2 separate regions of the Homo sapiens genome follow, and region 1 is linked to region 2. The links come from fine-mapping of genetic effects on gene expression. A gene starts in region 2. The other region holds a variant in brackets. All regions are shown on one strand. Distances are between the middles of the regions. Region 1 has its middle 43 kb from the start of TSPYL1. Region 2 holds the start of TSPYL1 (TSPY like 1).

What was found.
Region 1: its variant is fine-mapped to the expression of TSPYL1 in whole blood (TOPMed, PIP above 0.99).

The regions. Positions count from the first base shown.
Region 1 is chr6:116,318,423-116,327,694 of GRCh38, forward strand. It overlaps a transcript of DSE not described here. Among named protein-coding and RNA genes, the nearest start is that of TSPYL1, 43 kb to the left of the region's middle. RefSeq lists enhancers at 5,350-5,917, 6,940-7,441. The variant T/G (reference allele first, on the strand shown) is at 4,516.
Region 2 is chr6:116,275,444-116,284,715 of GRCh38, forward strand. TSPYL1 (TSPY like 1) reads right to left here and starts at 4,487. Exons shown (of 1, transcript NM_003309.4): 1 at 1-4,487. The coding sequence starts at 4,387. The coding sequence ends at 3,074. It also overlaps a transcript of DSE not described here. RefSeq lists enhancers at 3,851-3,900, 3,921-4,190, 4,421-4,480.

The DNA.
Region 1 (9,272 bases), 43 kb after region 2:
ATGAACCCGGGCCAAGCTTGCAGTGAGCCGAGATGCACCACTGCGCTCCAGGCTGGGCAACAGAGTGAGATTCCATCTCAAAAGAAAAAAAAAAAAGAAAGAGAAGAAGACTGAAAAAGCAAAACTAAAACTAACTTGCCCCATGGCTCTCAACTAGTAAGTGGCAAAACTAGCAACTTTACAACTATCTGACTGATATCAAAGCTCCAGTTTGTGTTTCTCAGCTATACGTGTCTTTTTAAAAATGAAGGAAATTAAATTTCAGCATCAAATTACCTGGCTAATTTAGAAATGAAGGGTTAAAAGTAAATAGAAAATGAGAAATTTAAAAATATTTTTTGGAAGGAAATACCCAAAGAGTAAAGTGAATTAAATCAGCTTCTTTTCTACTTGCTTATTAATAACAATAATAATGCTAACGTATCCTACAAAGCACATAGCAGAAATGTCTAAGAAAACTGTGTACCTAGTAAATATGTATTAACATGTTTACATATGATTTAAAGATGACTAAAATAGAGGACAGAATGCCCAAAACGCTCTTTTTCTGTTTAGGATGAAACCATTGAAAAAAATGCTTCAGTAGTCTCTTCTAGAAATTGAGGGGAATAGGCTAGGTCATCTCTAAACTCTCTTCAGTTCTAAGATTCTTTATTCTTTCTTTACTTTTTCTAAGCACTTTGACATAGTACTATCCATTTATTTTCAAGATGTTCATTGAAAAATAAATATTATAGGGAATAGATGAATAAACATGGCTAATTACTTAGAGGATTTCTCACAGATTAGTTAACATACACCCTTGTATTAGTCAGAGTAGATAGGTTATGCTGTAGTAACAAACCAACCTTTAATGCTCAGTGATATAAGACAACCAAAGCTTATTTTTAGCTAATTATACATATTTACTGTAAGCACGGGAACTCTGTTTTTGTAGTTATTCAGGGACACATGCTAACAAGTGTATATAGCCAAGCTATTCAAGTTTACCAATTATTGTGCTATAGGGAATGAGGAAATATGGTGAATCTAACACTGGCCCTTGAAGCCTCTGCTTACATTCCATTGACCAAAGCAAATCACATGGTCACATCTCACATGGAAAGAAGAGGCAGGGAAGTACAACTTAGAAGAGGTCTGAAGTGAACGTATTTGTTGAAAAACCCTAATGGATGTCATAAAACTAATACAATGTGAAATGAGAATCTGGTCATATCCTGGTCTTACTTAAAATCCTACACTGTAGTGCCTTATTATGGCCTTTGGGGTAAATATGTATCTTTGACATGGCCCTTGAGGCTCTGTTGATCTGACACTCACCTTCAAAACTTCATCTTTTGATTCTTCCCTTTTCGCTTTCTTCACTGCAGTCATGTTGGTCAACTCATCCAACATGTTGTTTTCATAAATATGTTCTTCTCCCTCCTGTTTACACATCTTTGCACTTCTGTTCAGTCTACCCACTATTCTATAAGCTGAATCCTACCCCCACCTTCACAACTCAGTTTAAACAGGACTAACTCTTGGTAACTGTCCCTGACTTTCTAGGAAAAGATCCCCTTTTATGTGTTCTCATAGCACCTGATGCATTTTCTCAGGATATAAGCTGTGTCTGTTTAACTCACCAACCACAGCACAATACCCAGCACATAATCAAACACTGAAATGTTTGTTGGCCAAATATGGGTTTTAGATTAGTGCCCAAAGATTACATTACCAGATTTCACAGAAAGAATAGACAGCTTTACCAGCAGAGCTGTTAGGAAAGGGACCAATACCAGGATTGCTTATATAAGAGGATGCGTAGCCAGATGCCTCCTAGGTATATATTTTATTGCAAAGGTTACTCTCAACATCAGAATGTGTTCCTGCTTAGTTCTACTTGTGGGACTTTCTGAATCTTGTTTTCTCCTTTGGTAAAAATGAGATTTTCTGGCAAGAATATGTCAATTTTTTTTTATCCTCCTTCAAGAGTCTAGGATGTATTTCTAGATAAAGAACTTATTAGATACTAGATAAGTCAGAAAATATAAACTATGCTTTGGAGAGAACAAAACAAAGGAGAGAACAGTGCAGGTTGGGGCAGGTGAAGGAGTCCTCCTTTAGGGAAGGAGGTGTATTAGTTTGCTTGCGCTGCCATAACAAAATACCATAGACTCAGTGAATTAAACAACAAAAATTTATTTTCTCACATCTGGAGGCTGGAAGTCAAGATCAAGGTACCAGCAGCATTGGTTTCCTCTCCTTTGCTTGAGGTGGCCACTCTATTGCTGCCTCTTCACATGGCCTTTTCTCTGTGCATGCACATCCCTGATGTCTCTTTCCTGTGTTCCAATTTTCTGTTCTTATAAGGACACCAGTGATATTGGATTAGGGTCTACCCTAACGACCTAATTTTAACTTAATTACCTCTTTAGAGGCCCTATATCCAACTACACTTAAACATTCTAAGGTACTAGGGCTTAGCATTTCAATATATGTATTTTAAGGAATACACAACTGAGCTCCTAACAGAAGGCAAAGAAGGAGTGTACTAAGGCGATGGAGAGATTGAGATAGAGCTGACATGCTGCACATGTCAGCAGGCTTGCTTGTGCTATGTGAGATTGTTGAATGGGTCACTGAAACATGACTTCCTTAGAAAAGCAGTTCTGCAACTCTTCTGTCTCTGCTCCATCTTCCTGGTATTGCTTCCCAGGTCACACTTTCAAATACTCATTTAAAAAAACCTACTTATTTATTTACTTATTTGTTTATTTATTTATTTTAGAGACAAGGTCTCACCCTGTTGCCCAGGCTGGAGTGCAGTTGTGTAAGCATAGCTCACTGCAGTCTTGAACACCTGTGCTCAAGTGATCCTCCTCTTGAGTAGCTGGGACTAAAGGTGTGTGCCACCATGTGTAGCTAATTTTTCATTTTTTTTTTTTTTTGGTAGGGATGGGGGTCTTGCTATCTTGGCCAGGCTGTTCTAAAACTCCTGGCCTCATGCAGTCCTCTTGCCTCAGCCTCCCAAAGCACCGAGATTTGACAAGCATGAGCTACTGCACCCAGCCCACAAAAACTCTTCTTATATTTACAGTTCCTGGCCAGGCACAGTGGCTCATGCCTGTAATCCCAGCACTTTGGGAGGCCGAGCAGGTGGATCACGAGTTCAGGCATTGGAGACCAGCCCAGCAAACATAGTGAAACCCCGTCTCTACTAAAAATAGAAAAAATTAGCCGGCGCCTGTAATTCCAGCTACTCGGGAGGCTGAGGCAGGAGAATCGATTGAACCCGGGAGGTGGAAGTTGCAGTGAGCCGAGATCGCGCCACCGCACTCCAGCCCGGGTGGACAGTGTGAGACTCCATCTCAAAATAAATAAACAAACAAATATTTACAGTTCTTTAAGTAGTGTCTGCCTTCTCCCCTATACTGTGTCATAAGGGCAGGAACTTTGTCTTTTTTGTTCACTACTGTACGTCTAGTACCTGACAATCAACATGCCGCAATTTTTTCACATGATAGTGTAGCAGGACGAGCCACAGACAAAACTCCTCAGACACCGAGTTAAAGAAGGAAGGGGTTTGTTCGGCCGGGGGCATCAGCAAGACTCCTGTCTCAAGAGCCGAGCTCCCCAAGTGAGCAATTCCTGTCCCTTTTAAAGGCTCACAACTCTAAGGGGGTGCGTGTGAGAGGGACGTGATTGATTGAGCAAGCAGGGGGTACGTGACTGGGAGCTACATGTACTGGTAATTAGATCAGAACAAAACAGGATAGGGATTTTCACAGTGCATTTCTATACAATGTCTGTAATCTATAGATAACATAACCGATTAGGTCGGGGTCGATCTTTAACTACCAGGCCCAGGGTGTGGCGCCGGGCTGTCTGCTTGTGGATTTCATTTCTGCCTTTTAGTTTTTACTTTTTCTTTCTTTGGAGGCAGAAATTGGGCATAAGACAATATGAGGGGTGGTCTCCTCCCTTAATAGAATAAGTGGAATATGATGTTAAATAAAAGAGATGAAGACCTGGATGTTCCCAAAGGTCTGTAGGCCTCAGCCAGCCTCCCAGAGGGAGCAGAGCCTCTGCCACTGAGTCTTTAGACAAACCTTTCCTTCCCCACCATCCCCAAAATTACTTCTGCCCCCCCACCCCAATTAAATAAGATTTACCTTTGGGACCTGTTGAATAAACCTGGAGTGATTTTTTAGGTTTCTGATTGCCTTCTTCCTAAAATATATCATTTCGTTGATGCTTAAAGTAAATAAAGAAAAAGTATTTCATTCCTCAACCAGTGATAAGATTTAAATGCAAACCTGTGATTGAAGCTGAGATTTCAATTTGTTGAAATGTAATCAGCCCATGTGCATGTGTAAATGACTCTCAACCAAGATTTTCTGTTTAAATATGGAGAGAAGAGAGAGAAGTGGCAGGGTAGAAGAGACTGCAGAATAATGTTTCAGAAGAGTAACTTCCCAGATTTGACACTGCACTCCATGTAGAGCAAGTTGGAGTGTTAGTGTAGAGAGCATT[T/G]TTTTGCTTCCTGGCTGTGGGAAGTCCTCCCCTAACCACCTGCAGAAAATAATTTATCCATGCAGGGAGCATAAGGGTCTTCCAGAAAAGAGAGCTGATAGTGGTTCACAGTATTTTGCGCTTTACTGGTCTGTGATTATGGAATCCCAGATTTGCAACAATTGAAGTCTGGTTTTGTTAATGTTATTCTTTAAGATGTCAGTGGAAACATTTCTCTCCCAGTTCCCTTGTAAAGTGAAAATTACACATCAGTTGTAAGCCAGCTTTTAAACAGATTTCTTTAAAATATGTATTTTTTTCAGTTGTAGCAATGTCATGTCATTTACCTTGTAAGAAATCCTATACTGAGAAATATAAGAGCTGAACATCTTTCACTGTGTTTCTTCACGACTGTACTCAATCTTATTAGATTCTTCTACTGTTAAGCTAATAATTAATTTGGATTTCTATTTTTTTATTGAGTAGTGAGATTCACATTTGACTTGCCAGAAAAATAAAAAACTTTTCAGTGGCAGCAAGGCAGATAATAATTACTTCTTGGACATTCGTTTAGCAGCCAGGTGCTATAGTGTGCTTTGTCTACAAATGTGCTTTTAAATGTTCTTATCGAAAAGTGTGTCCAGGAAAAACCTTTATATTATTATGATCTATTTTACTCATTTTAGTTCTAAGGGTAATGGAATTTCATGTCATTTGATTTGTAATGAACAACACAAAGATTTTTAAATATTCTGAAGAAAGTTTTGAAAATTTAAATCTAACAGAAAAGTAAGAAATATGTTTAATAGCATTTCAGGTATAAAATATACACCAAGAGAAAAAATTAAGTTGGCAATAAGTTATAGTTAATTTTGTATATGGTTTCTATAAGGGGAAAACAGGTCATTAGCCTGATCATGTGCATCTTTCCTGATACCTTTCTTCTCATTCCCTCTTCCATTATCTTCCCTCCACTTCTACCATCCTTCTTCAGCCAGGATATATTTTTAATGGCTGATTTATCCAACTCTTCTCTTTTTTTCTGGGCCCCCTAGTCAAACCTGCCCCACATAGTCAAACCACAACTCATTAACAACCCTCAGAGGCAAGGTAAGAGGACAAAAGAGAAAAGGAAGTGCCCACCTGTGAGATCTGAATTCAGCAGTTAATAGGTCCCCCTCTTACCCCTCACCCCAGGCTCCAAAGGGGCTTTCTTCGTATTAACATGTGGGAAACACAAGTCCCAAAGCTATGTCTGCTAGTAGGCTTTCCTGCTAATTTCACCATCATTTTATTAGACTTCACTTATATCTTACTTCATCAGCTTGCCATTGGCAGGTGGGCAGATTTTCCTCAGTTTTTGGCCTAACTCCAAGATATATACAACAGCAGGCAAGATCCAGGAAAGCAAAGGTATTTTGACTATTTTTCCCAGTTTGCTTTAATAGCTTAGGACAAGTAACCTGCTGGAAGGCAGCAGTTTAGATTATTGACAAGAATATGAGTTTGGAAGTCAAATAGTCACAGGTGAAATCCCAACTCCACCCCCTTGTAGCTGTTTGAATTGACTCCATGAGTTTTAGATCTTCATCAACACAAAGGACAGGGAAAGCACAATTGCTTTAGAATAGGATAGTTGCAGCGTACGTAGCTTTGGAACCTACATGAGATTCTGAGGGTTGTGTGCAGGGGTATATGTAAAATACAAAGAGAGCTGGCTTTGTTAAACAGCAATGGTAGAACAACCCAGGTGACCCGGAAGTTCATTATCCCCTCTCATTGGTAGCTCGAGGAGCCTGAGTTAGCTTAAGGAAAGAACAGGCTTCCATTTCAACTACTTCTTTCCATTGCATTGATGTTCACTGCACTTCTCTGTTCCTTATAATGAGTAGAATATTATAGGGGGAGAGTTTCACCCTTTTGGGGATGCATGCAGTCCATTTCTGCCTGTGTGCACTCTCCTATGTCTGTGCTTTTAAGTTTTCTCTGAGTTTATCCCATTTTATATTTGTACTATGAGGCACTGATAAGGAGTGCTAATGACTCCTTTGCATAACAGTTGGAGATTAGCTAGGGACACATACCACCCACTCTGGGGTTAGGTGTGTTTTGGGAAGCAGCAGAGTTTAACTGGTTCACCCAGGGTGGAAACAATCCTCCTTGGAAAGGCTGGAACCAGGTGGCTGCTAACCCCGAATCATGTCTGGTGGCATCATAGGAGTCCTTCAGACACCAAAGCCTCCAAACCCACAAGTCACTGGGAAAAGGTGGATTTTCTGCAAAAGAAAAACCCTGGCGAGTGAGACTCATGGTTGCCTAAATTTTCTAAGTCCCAAGACCTCACTTTCAGATGTTTCTTCCCCATGTCTGGGGTGAAACCATGCATGATTTTTGAAAAATGTCCACCACAAGTTGTGATGTGCACTCCAGGATGAGTACTGCATGATACATAATCTCCAAAGTTCCATCAGCTCTTTAGTTCTTGAGGTAGGTATCATCAGAAACATATGAGCTCCTTCCCTTTTGGATTAGAGGAATTGTACAAAATGATTTGTTTTTATCTTCTATCTTGCCTTCATCCCCAGATTTCTTGCAACTTTCATCATTTTTTTAATAAAACCTAATGTCCTGTGTTGCAACTGGAGTAGTAGGTAGGTGTTCTCCTGCCAAGTTAAGATGTTTATACAACGTCTGTTTGCCATACTAATGCATGCTGTGGAATTGTCTTCTGCCCTCCATGTAAGGACCACTTCTACCTTCTCAAATACATAACCCATGTATAGTTTGCTATCTGACTTATAGCAAGCATTCAGATATTTTCCTGGCCTATCACTATGTAGCAGGACGAGCCACAGACAAAACTCCTCAGACACCAAGTTAAAGAAGGAAGGGGTTTGTTCAGCCGGGGGCATCGGCAAGACTCCTGTCTCAAGAGCCGAGCTCCCTGAGTGAGCAATTCTCCTCCCTTTTAAGGGCTCACAACTCTAAGGGGATGCACATGAGAGGATCGTGATCGAGTGAGCAAGCAGGGGGTATGTGACTGGGGCTGCACGCACCAGTAATTAGATTGGAACAAAACAGGACAGGGATTTTCACAGTGCTTTTCTATACAATGTCTGTAATCTATAGATAACATAACCGATTAGGTCAGGGGTCGATCTTTAACTACCAGGCCCAGGGTGTGGCGCCGGGCTGTCTGCTTGTGGATTTCATTTCTGCCTTTTAGTTTTATCTTTTTCTTTCTTTGGAGGCAGAAATTGGGCATAAGACAATATGAGGGGTGGTCTCCTCCCTTAATTATAGTAACCAGAAGACAGGCCTCATCCTAGAGGAGCTCAGAGGGGAGGACGGCGGGAGTCCTAAGGAGTCATAGCCTCTAGAGACGAAAGGAAAATCTGAGGCAAGGGTTCTTTTCAGCTTTTTCTTTAACTCCCCCACCCCCCACCAAAAAACTTTCAAATATCTTAGGAGCTGCTTATGCCAAGAGTGATGAAATTTTTTGGCAGTTACTGTGATATTTGTGCCAGTTCACCTCCTTAGGGTATCTTGCTGATAAGATTTAAATGATGCCAACATAATGCTGTTGGACCATTTGTCTCTTTTCACTGTTTTGTGCATTTATCCCATGCTGCGGCACCACCGGCGTCTTCTGAATGGATACTGAGGCAGCCAAATCCTGACTCACTACAGTCCTACACTGTGTCTCTCTTGCTTGGCCGAGAAAACTGTTAGGTTCTCTCTTCATCTGTCAAATGTAAGGATATTAGGCACTCCCTGAAACTTAACTGCTGAGGTACAAAGCATGAATTTAGGTGAAGACTTAATGGAAAGAACAGCAAAATGTATCAAAATCTCTAAATAGGTGAAATAGTATGTAAGGGCAAAATGAAGCAGAAAAATTACTAGAGAGATGAGAATGTAAAATATTTTTCTTACTTCATTCTAGTAGAACAATCTATAAAGAGGGAATGCCTAAGTTAAAAATATAACTGTAAGTAGACTCTTCAAAATGATTAGGCAGGCAGTTAGATTTTCATGTTGCTTCACATTTATTAACCTTCACCCATTAGGCTGTTGTTGGGGTCATTTGTATGATCTTCAAATATTCAGGCCTTCTGTAGAAGCCTTCTAACTCGAGCGGAAATGGATGGCTTTCTCCTAGAGGGAAATTAAGGGGTCCAAAGATACTTAACAGTGCATACAGTAAAGAGAGAAAAAACAGGAAAAAGTCGAGGATTGGAATCTCCAGCTTATAGAGCTCCATTCTGCTCCAGAACAAACTCTGTTTTATTCAGTTACTTAGTTACACAGCACATCAGAGAGACTAAACTATTGACCCTTGAGGTACAGAAAAGAAGTGAGCCAAAGACTTTACGAGATTATTTCCTAGCAGAAAATTAAAATAAAATCTCACTGATTTCTCCATCTCTTCCATCATAAGGTGAACAGTAAGTAAAGGAAGTGGAGAGTTTAAGGGACAGCGTTAGGAAAAACTTCTGAGCTCCTACATGTGACCTGGATAATCATAACTTTAACCCTCAACTGCCTTTCCACCACCTATGATGTTGGGGTTTCAGAAAAGGTGGAATTGGAGGAGGATGGATTTTCTTGTCAAGATCTTGGGCAAATGATATGCTGAAAGAACCACAGCTGGAGTCCAGGGGTTACATAGAAGTCACTGGTATTACAGGATATTTGGAGGTCAAAACTTTAAAGTATTATCCATAATACTTGAATCCAAACTGCTCTTGGTAAATATTTCTGTTTGTTTCCGGTGA
Region 2 (9,272 bases):
GTTCTTTTTCCTCCATCTGAGTTTTGTCATTCAATATTTATCTGCTGACAACTATGCAAAACATTATGCTAGATGGGCTGGGTGCGGTGGCTCACGCCTGTAATCCCAGCACTTTGGGAGGCTGAGGTGGGCTGATCACGAGGTCAGGAGATGGAGACCATCCTGGCTAACATGGTGAAACCCCATCTCTACTAAAAATACAAAAAATTAGCCGGGCGTGGTAGCACGTGCCTGTAGTCCCAGCTACTCGGGAGGCTGATGCTGGAGAACTGCTTGAAACCGGGAGGCGGAAGTTGCAGTGAGCCGAGATCGCGCCACTTGCGCTCCAGCCTGGGCAAGAGTGGGACTCTATCTCAAAAAAAAAAAAAAAAAATGCTAGATGCAATGAACCATGTAAAATGCACTGCATCTCCACTTTCACAAAGTTTCCAAACTACTGAGAGGAAAAGAGTGAACATGGGAAAAACATGAAAATATAATCTCTGTATTTTATTTTACTGTATCACTCTGTTAATTCTTTGTTTGCTTATCAGTCCTTCCCCAGTTCCCCAAAGAAGGGAATGGACTTTATCTTCTTACTCTTTTTCTCTATTTGTGGAATTCACTGTAATGAATAATTATGTTAATTTTCTAGAACAGAGGTCCCTCCAAAGTACACTAAGTGCATAAAGAAACATTTATCTCCTCTATGGGGAACAGAAAGACTTTGGCAGAGGAATTACCAAGGGCAGGCCTTGAAGGATTTGACAGAAGAGAACAGTGAGGAAGTTTAAAGAAAAAAAGGAAGTTTTTACAGATGAGAAAGTATGAAAATAGAGGAGTACATCACATATGATAGGTACTCCCTGCATACAAGTTAATAAAAAGAAGAGCCTGAATAACCTGAGAATATAATTTATGGAGACAGAAATGGAGGATTTGAGCAACTGAAGGGGAGGTTGTGCTGCATAAACTACATGGAAAAAAGTGATTGAGTAAGCAGTTGCAACTGCTAACGTTTTAAGGCAAACTACCTTGGAAGGTACCAAACATACCGTGCCCTGCTTTCTTCTCTTTGGGATAATGTCTATTGTGTCCATTTAAGGACTTTAATGATTCTGTAATTTTTAGTTAACATCAATTTAAGGACTTTAATGATTTTAATCCATTAAGAACTTTAATGATTTTAATCCATTAAGAACTTTAATGGATTAAAGGACTTTAATGATTCCATAATTTTTAATTAATATGAACAACTTCATTCAAGCATTACATTTATGGGTAAGGTGAAAAATAAGAAATCTAGCAGAACAACATGCTTTTATTTTACCATCATGCATAAAAAGGAAGACAAATATGCCAATGGTACACTTCCAATTTGTCAGAGCAATTTCACAGTATTTAAGCAATTTAGGAAAAAAGATATATCACTTACTAAGTTGTTACCAGGGAAAATTATCATGTAAGACAATCAATTAAACCATACTTTTGTAGATTATTTTTCCATGAAGGCAATTTGACAAGCCTAACAAAGACCAAGTTGTTCAAACTATGTTTCTAGGAATATAGTTTAACAGAAACAAGAACAAGTTGAAAACTGTTATGACTATTCATATGTCTCTATATTGTACAGGCAAGTAAGACTGTTGTTCTTCCAAATGTTCCCAATTGAAATCAAAAGAATATCTGTACAGCTCAATTTTCACAATAAGTTTAGAATCAGAAAAAAAAATTTTACTAAATCCTAATGAAATAACAATCTTCCACATAAATTAGGTCACAAAACAAGTAAGAAAGCATTCAAAGTTGCGCTGTCTTTCTTTAAAGAACCCTTGTCTAGGCAACATATTTAACACTTTAACCCCTTCAATTCTCCCTGAAAAGTATTTTTCCATTCATCATCATTGGGGAGTAAGTACTCCTTCCTCGAAAGCTCTTAACGACAGCACAGTCTTCACTCTAGGCCCAATTTTTACCTGGCCCATGCCTCTAGCCTTTTGTTCAGTTTCTCCTGCTTAGGGCACCTTTCATCCCATCTAGATGTGTCTCTCTTTAACTATTCTAGGAGTTGATAAAAGGGCTAGGAAGTAGGAAGTTGGGAAGAAGGGGAGGGGCGTAAGAGCTCTAGCACTCTATTTTACAGGCCAACTTCTTTGCCTCTGAAAATGACAGAGCCAAAATGAAATAAAAACCTTGCTTTTACAAATGTTTCTGAGCTATCACTTTTTTAAGAGAGGATTGGGAGGCTAAGGAGGGCGGATCACGAGATCGGGGTTCGAGACCAGCCTGGCCAGCATGGTGAAACCCCGTCTCTACTAAAAATATAAAAATTAGCCGGGCGTGGCGGCGCGCGCCTGTAGTCCCAGCTACTCGGGAGGCTGAGGCAGGAGAATCGCTTGAACCCGGGAGGTGGAGGTTGCAGTGAGCCGAGATCGCGCCACTGCACTCCAACCTGGGCGACAGAGCAAGACTCCGTCCTCCGTCTCAAAAAAAAAAAAAAAAAAAAAAAAAAGGAAAACAGGGAGAGAGAGGGACCTTGGCAGGAGCCAATGTAGGGCAGGTAGCAATAGAAAGTGACTAGAGGTGAAGGAAGAGCAATGAAGTACCATAAATCACACAGAACAAGTGGCTCACTGCTTTTCTCCTCTGAGTTCATTAACGTCCAGTAACTGTCCACAGGGCATGTGCCCATACTGCTCAATGCAGAGCTGAGTAGGTGGAACAGGCTCCCAAAGCTAGAAATCCAAGTGACAGCAACCAGTTCAGAGGCCCTGGGAATAAACAGGGTCCAAGCAGTGCAGATAAAGGCAGTACAATCTACAGTATCATTTGCTTGGCTTACAAGTAGTGTGAAGGATGACCTCGTAGCATGTGATATTCCAGAACAGCATGAAGGTCATATGGAAGTGGAGAAGCATACCCACCACCGTCTCAATCTTGAGGTTGAGAGAACTGAATATCCAAAGGAAACAGGGTGCAGAAAAGTCAGCAAAAACAAAGCACAATAGAAGGCATACTCATTGCTGATGCCCAAGCACAGGTCCAGCAGAAGGTGGTAGGAGACCTTGTGCAGGAGTATTCCCAAGGGCAAATGTTAACCAGACTGGAACCCAAAGGGCCTGGGGATCTCTACAGGCTCCCTTAGCGGGCGACGTCGGGCTCTACGGACTCCTTCACGCAACAGGTAGTATTGCAGTGGATTTGGCCACAGATCCTCTTTAATAATCTCAGCAATTTTGTCGGACTCTGGAAGGCTGTGGTCTGAAAACCAAGTGAAGAAGCTGCAGATGAGGTCTTGGTTTCTGCGAATGAAGGACTGGGGTTCATGCCCCCTGCGCCATATAATTGGAGTAGAAAGAGACACCACTCGGCCGGAGGATCTTACCTCATATTCCTTGACAATCAGCTTGTTTCTGAAGTAGGGGTTTCTTCTAAAGAAGAACTTGAACTTGCAACCGGTTCTAGGGTGTCTGAGTTCCTTCACCTCTAAATTGGTTATGTACCTTAACATCTCTGCATCTTGGCCCCTAATCATGGCGGACAACTGGGGGTGGTTTCGAAAAGCAGTCATCCAGAAGCCCGGGATATTCTGAATGATGTAGTTCCTCCGCTCCAGGTAGTGTCGACGCATCCGCCCAAACTTGTGCTCCAGCTGTTGGAAGGCCCTGTCGGCCTGAGCATTCACAGTGTCCAGTTCCAGCTGGATGGCCTCCAGAGGGTCCATGCGGAGAGCCTCATGCAAAGGCCAGGGCCCTTCTTCCTCCCTCGCCTCCTCCTCCAATCTATCCTCCTCCGCCACTTCTATTTCTTCACCTTCTGGCGGCTGCTCCTCTACCTCCATCTGCTCCTCCATTACCTCCTTCTCCGCCAGGCCTTCCTTCACCACCTCAGCGCTCTCCCTCTCAGCCACGGCTGCTGAGACGGTGGCGCACTTTCCTGTCTTCACCTCCTCCGCCTCAGCCTCCGCCCCCGCCGTCAGCTCAGACGCGGATCTCTGGGCGCCACAGATTTCTAGGGCCTTCTCTCCACCCTGAACGCCCTTTTTCAGGCTGCGGTCGGCTGCCATCACCACAGAAGCGGCTGCCAGGCCTTCGGCGGGAGGCTGGCCCTCTTCCTGCCCGGCTTTGATCGCCACATGACCGCGACCCCCAACAACTCGGATCTGGGGAGTACCGCCACGGCCCGCGGCATCCTGGGGTACGCCCCCCTCCTCTGAAGGCGGTGGAGGCGGGAGCGCGACGGTCTCCGAGCCTCCCTCACCCGGCTCCGCCATCACCTGTGTCGCCTCGCTTTGGTCGCGGAGCCTCAGGTACTGGTGTGCGTCCTGGTCGCTCGGGACTTGGTCAGAAATAATGATGCTGTGGGTTTGGAGGGGAGTGGTCCTCTTGACCCCATCCAGGCCGCTCATGTTGCTAACAGTCGGACCAACCGCAGGCGAACGCCCGTTTTCCTCAGAGGCCGAACTGGGAGCTAACCGCCGCTCGCACCGCCCACCCTACAGTCTCACTAACATTTCAGCGGCGGTGTCGTCAGGACTGGAGATCTCACGGTATCGCGAGAACTTGCTGAGCCCGGGATTGGTTCCGCCGCTCCCTGCCAGCCAACCGGATTCTCTGGGCTTTATTTCTGTGAATTTACCCATAGCAACAGTAATTTTACCTACGTAAATAAATGTCGATTGTGCTGAGTCTGGAAGCGCGGACGACCCACCTTGAGATGCATCTAGCGACTGCTCCCAGCATGTAGGAGCAGTTGTAAAATCACAGCCGTAACAGTGCCTGCTCTCCAGTGTCTGAAAACAAATGTTTTTCTGGTCTTCACTTTTTTGAGGCAGGAAGGTAAATCTATTCCCTGTTACTCCACGTAACTAGCAGCAAAAGACTTCTCTTTAAGATTAATAGCAAAATGTTTCCCCCCTTCTTAGTAAAAGTGACATAAAAATATCAATTCTTGCCTCTACGGTTACTGGGGAAAAAAAGCTACTCAGCAGCCTCTTACCACTAAAGCGATGCATAGTATTCATTGCTAATTTTCGATTTATAATCTGCATCAAATAAGAGTTTGTGCTGCATAGTATCGGTAGAAATTAAGCCAGGATCAGTTTGCTAAATGTTCCATGCCTTTTCACTGCAAGAAAGAGGAAATTATAACTATTTCCAGCCCCAAGAACTTAATTTATTATCATATTTAGTTATGTAAGATAGGAATGTTTGGCTCTAACGAAGCATCTGTCTTTAGCAATCAGCTGAGTTCATTAGAGGGGGATGTCAATGTCTCTGGTTGAAGTGTTCCAGTTTGTTGACTTGTGAGTTAAACTGGTGCTGTCTTAGAGAGCTACAAGGCCTCAGAGAAATATCAGTGGGGGGAGCCACATACCACCATTTTGTGAGGAAAGGCTAGTTAAAATGGACAACTAAGATGGCCTTGAAGTAGAAAACAAACTTGCAAAGGGCAACATGCAGCTGGTGGACTCAAGGTATAAAAGAGGCAAACGTTATTTTCTACTTAATTTGCTTTGTGTGGTAGTAGCCTGATGGCCCTCAAAGATGTACCTGTCTTAGTTATGCGGCCAAAGGGACTTCGCAGATATGATTAAGTTAAAGATTTGGAGATGAGAAGATGATTCTGGATTATACAGGTGGGCCCTATGGAATTACAAATTTCTTATAAGAAGGAGGCAGGAGGGTCAGTCAGAGAAGATAAGAGGACGAAAGCACAGAGAGAGGGAAGGAATGGTGGAGAATAGGTGTGGGAGGGAGGAAAGGGAAATCGCTATGTTGCTGGCTTTGAAGATGGAGGAAGGAGCCAGGATCGTAGGAATAAAGGCAGCCTCTAGAAGCTTGAAAGGTAAGGAAATAGATTCAATCCTAGAGCCTCCAAAGGAATGACAACACCTTGAGGTTATTACCTCTAAACTCCAGCACTATAAGAAAATAAATTTGTGCATTTTAAGCTATTAAATTTGTGGTAATTTGTTACAGAAGCAATATGAAATGAATACACCTTGGATTAAGGTTTGGTTGCATCTATGGGTGCCTCAAGTTGTTTCTAATAGCAGCCCCTTCTACCTTGCTCATGGCTTCCCGTGAGTTCCTGCCCAACAGCTGTGATGTATTACAGCTTGAATCTGTCTTTCAATATCAAGACCAGAAATATACTTAGGCAAATGCACAGAAAGACAAAATTAAAGCCTAAACATACCACAAACGATATCTGAGGAGACTGTAAACTGCAAGAGGACATGATCATGGTTTCGTTTCCCTCTGTTTATCGAGTGCCTAGCACACTACCTTACACAGTATCCCATAGATTATTAAAATGTTAAATAAAGGAGCAAATGAGCAGAAAACAGTTTCTCTTGCTTGCAACTTGCTCCTTGCGGAAGAGAAGTAAGGGGCATATGGGTTGTCACTCTGCTCTCCTTCCTATCTGCCACTGGCAAACCAGAGGGCTGCTCTATTCTATATAGTAACAGTTTCCTACTCAGGAGAATGAATTTCTATATATGTTTCAAAGGCTCTAAAAGGATAGGAAAAACACAGAGAAAACAATTTTATTTTACAAATAATTTAAGTTTGTGTGGTCACACTGTATGACAAACGAACTCTGAAAAGACCAGCATATTTAGGTGAGTTTACATATCAAAGCCTCGGACTACCAGCACTGTATTTCCAATTCTCTCCTTTCTGAAAAAGTCAAGGTAATCATTTCAGGCTTTACTTCGTTTCTGTCTACAGAAATATATAATGCATTTCTCTCTACAAGTGATGGAGCCTGTGATGCATGGCTGGAATTACTTTTGGTGTAAATAAAAAGGAATATTGGAACTTTCCACAAAGACTGTTTCTAATTGCCATGAAATCATCTTCTATTTTGAACTGGTATAATTTCATTCGGCCTAAAGTGGAAACTTCTATTATTCCAATATGTCTCCTATTTTTTTTTAAGCAGAAAGGAGTGTCAGGCTTGGACCAATCTTAGAATATATGGCTTTATTTGTCAAAGAAGCCATTATGTAATTAATGTAATTAACACTCTTACCAGTAATGCTAGGAAAACTCTAATTAGGATCATGTAAGTATAATCAGGACTCTGCTGAATGTAATTTCCCCCAAATAACGTTGAGACTCTTTAAAGGAACTCTTCCTTCTCTTCTTGTCGAACATGTATAAAGCTGTGATAAGGAATATTTGAATATATAGAGAACGTGATTTAAAATTAGAAGTAATGTATCTCATGTTCTCTGTGTATTAGAAGAAAATTACATTAGAGAAGTGATTGTGATTATAACTATTCCTTGTAGGTGATGGAAAGCTCAGGTTATGATTGCTTTCGGACAAGTGCTCAGGAGAAGGGTCAGTAAAGGGCAAGGATTTTAGAGGGAAAAGCAAATATGCATACTTTATGTCCTATTTTTTTTTAAAGAAAGAATCTTTGCTTGGAAGGAGGAACTCTCTAGGAATGTCAACATGCACCAAGGCTCACGTGCTCAGGGAGTTATTTTGCCATACAGGCAAAGCTGTGGTTGCTATTCAACACAGAATATTGTACTTATTATAGTAGGACTATTACTTGTGGATTTTTTGTTCACCTTTTTGTATCTAAAAAGGCTTAAAAAGGATACCTGTTTCTTTTACATGACACAGGTTATCCTGCTATCTGGGAATTCTCTTTCTGGGTAGATGTTACACATTCTCTAAGACTTACCAAAAACCTGTCTTGCTTTAAAATGTGCTAGGCATTTTACATGCATTAAAGTGTCAAATTTCATAAAAGAGGAAACAGTAACACTGAGAGGCTAACTAACTTTACCAAAGTCATACATAAAGTAACTGGTAAATTCTTTCTCCCTTCTCCTGAGTGCATCTTTCCTAAGTAGCCTATGGCTCCTTAATCTTCCTCACCTGAATTCCTGCAACTCTTTTATGAGCTGCACCATGCAGTTTAGCACTTAATTGTGCTTCTCCTCTTAGGGACTAGTTGATTTATATGTGTCAGTCTCATCATCCCAGCATTCCAGCATCATCTCATGGGATGGGAGCATAGTTGCAGCTTCTTTTGCATTTATTCATCATAGCATGGGGCTCAGGTTTGGGTAGATTCTTTGTTGTTGTTGTTGTTGTTGTTGTTGTTGTTGTTGTTATGGAGTCTCACTCTGTCGCCCAGGCTGGAGTGCAGTGGCATGATCTTGGCTCACTGCAACCTCTGCCTCCCAGGTTCAAGCAATTCTCCTGCCTCAGCCTCCCGTGTAGCTGGGACTACAGACACTGGCCACCACACACGGCTAATTTTTGTATTTTTAGTAGAGAAGGGGTTTCCCCACGTTGGTCAGGCTGGTCTCGAATTCCCGACCTCAGGTGATCCGCCCGCCTCAGCCTCCCAAAGTGCTGGGATTACAGGCATGAGCCACTGCGCCCGGCTAGATTTGGGTAGATTCTTAACAATATTTGTTCATTTGAATAAAATAAACCTCAAATTATCTTACAAAAACAACAGTGTATCTGTACTGGCATATTTTATTTGCAGAGGAAATACATTTTGGCTATGCTTCATATATCACCTTTTTTGCACTTTAAAATATAGGATAAATTGGTCCATGACAGAGCATTTCTGTAATTGACAATAAACTTCACTACCCCCAAAGATAGTTGAATCTTTTCTAATACAGTTCTATGGGAAAACATCTGCAAAAAACCCTGAGGTTTTTCTCCATAATATCAAGGAATCATAGATTCTTTGGGAATGATTTCTCAGGTAGCAAGGAGTTTAGCGGAAGTTCAGACATTTTTGTTTTGCAGAAAGGTAGGTTTTATCATTATAATTAATGATAGCTTTCACTTATTTACTGCTCCTGATGTACCAGCCACTTTTATAAACAACATCCAGTGTGTCACATCTTTTAGTTGTCATAAGAACCCCATGAGGTAATTGCATTTATGACCTTCGTGTTACTCAATAGGAAACTGAGGCAAAGAGAGACTGTCACTTGGCCAAAATGGTACAGAAAGTAATAGACCCATGATTCGAACCCAGAAAGTTTGTCTCAAAAGCCTGTACTCTCTGAACAAGTGTGAACTCACTTTCTTTTTTTTATTATTATTATTATACTTTAAGTTCTAGGGTACATGTGCACAATGTGCAGGTTTGTTACATATGTATACTTGTGCCATGTTGGTGTGCTGCACCCATTAACTCGTCATTTACACATTAGGTATATCTCCTAATGCTATCCCTCCCCCCTCCCCCCTCCCCCAACCTCATGATAGGCCCCGGTGTGTGATGTTCCCCACCCT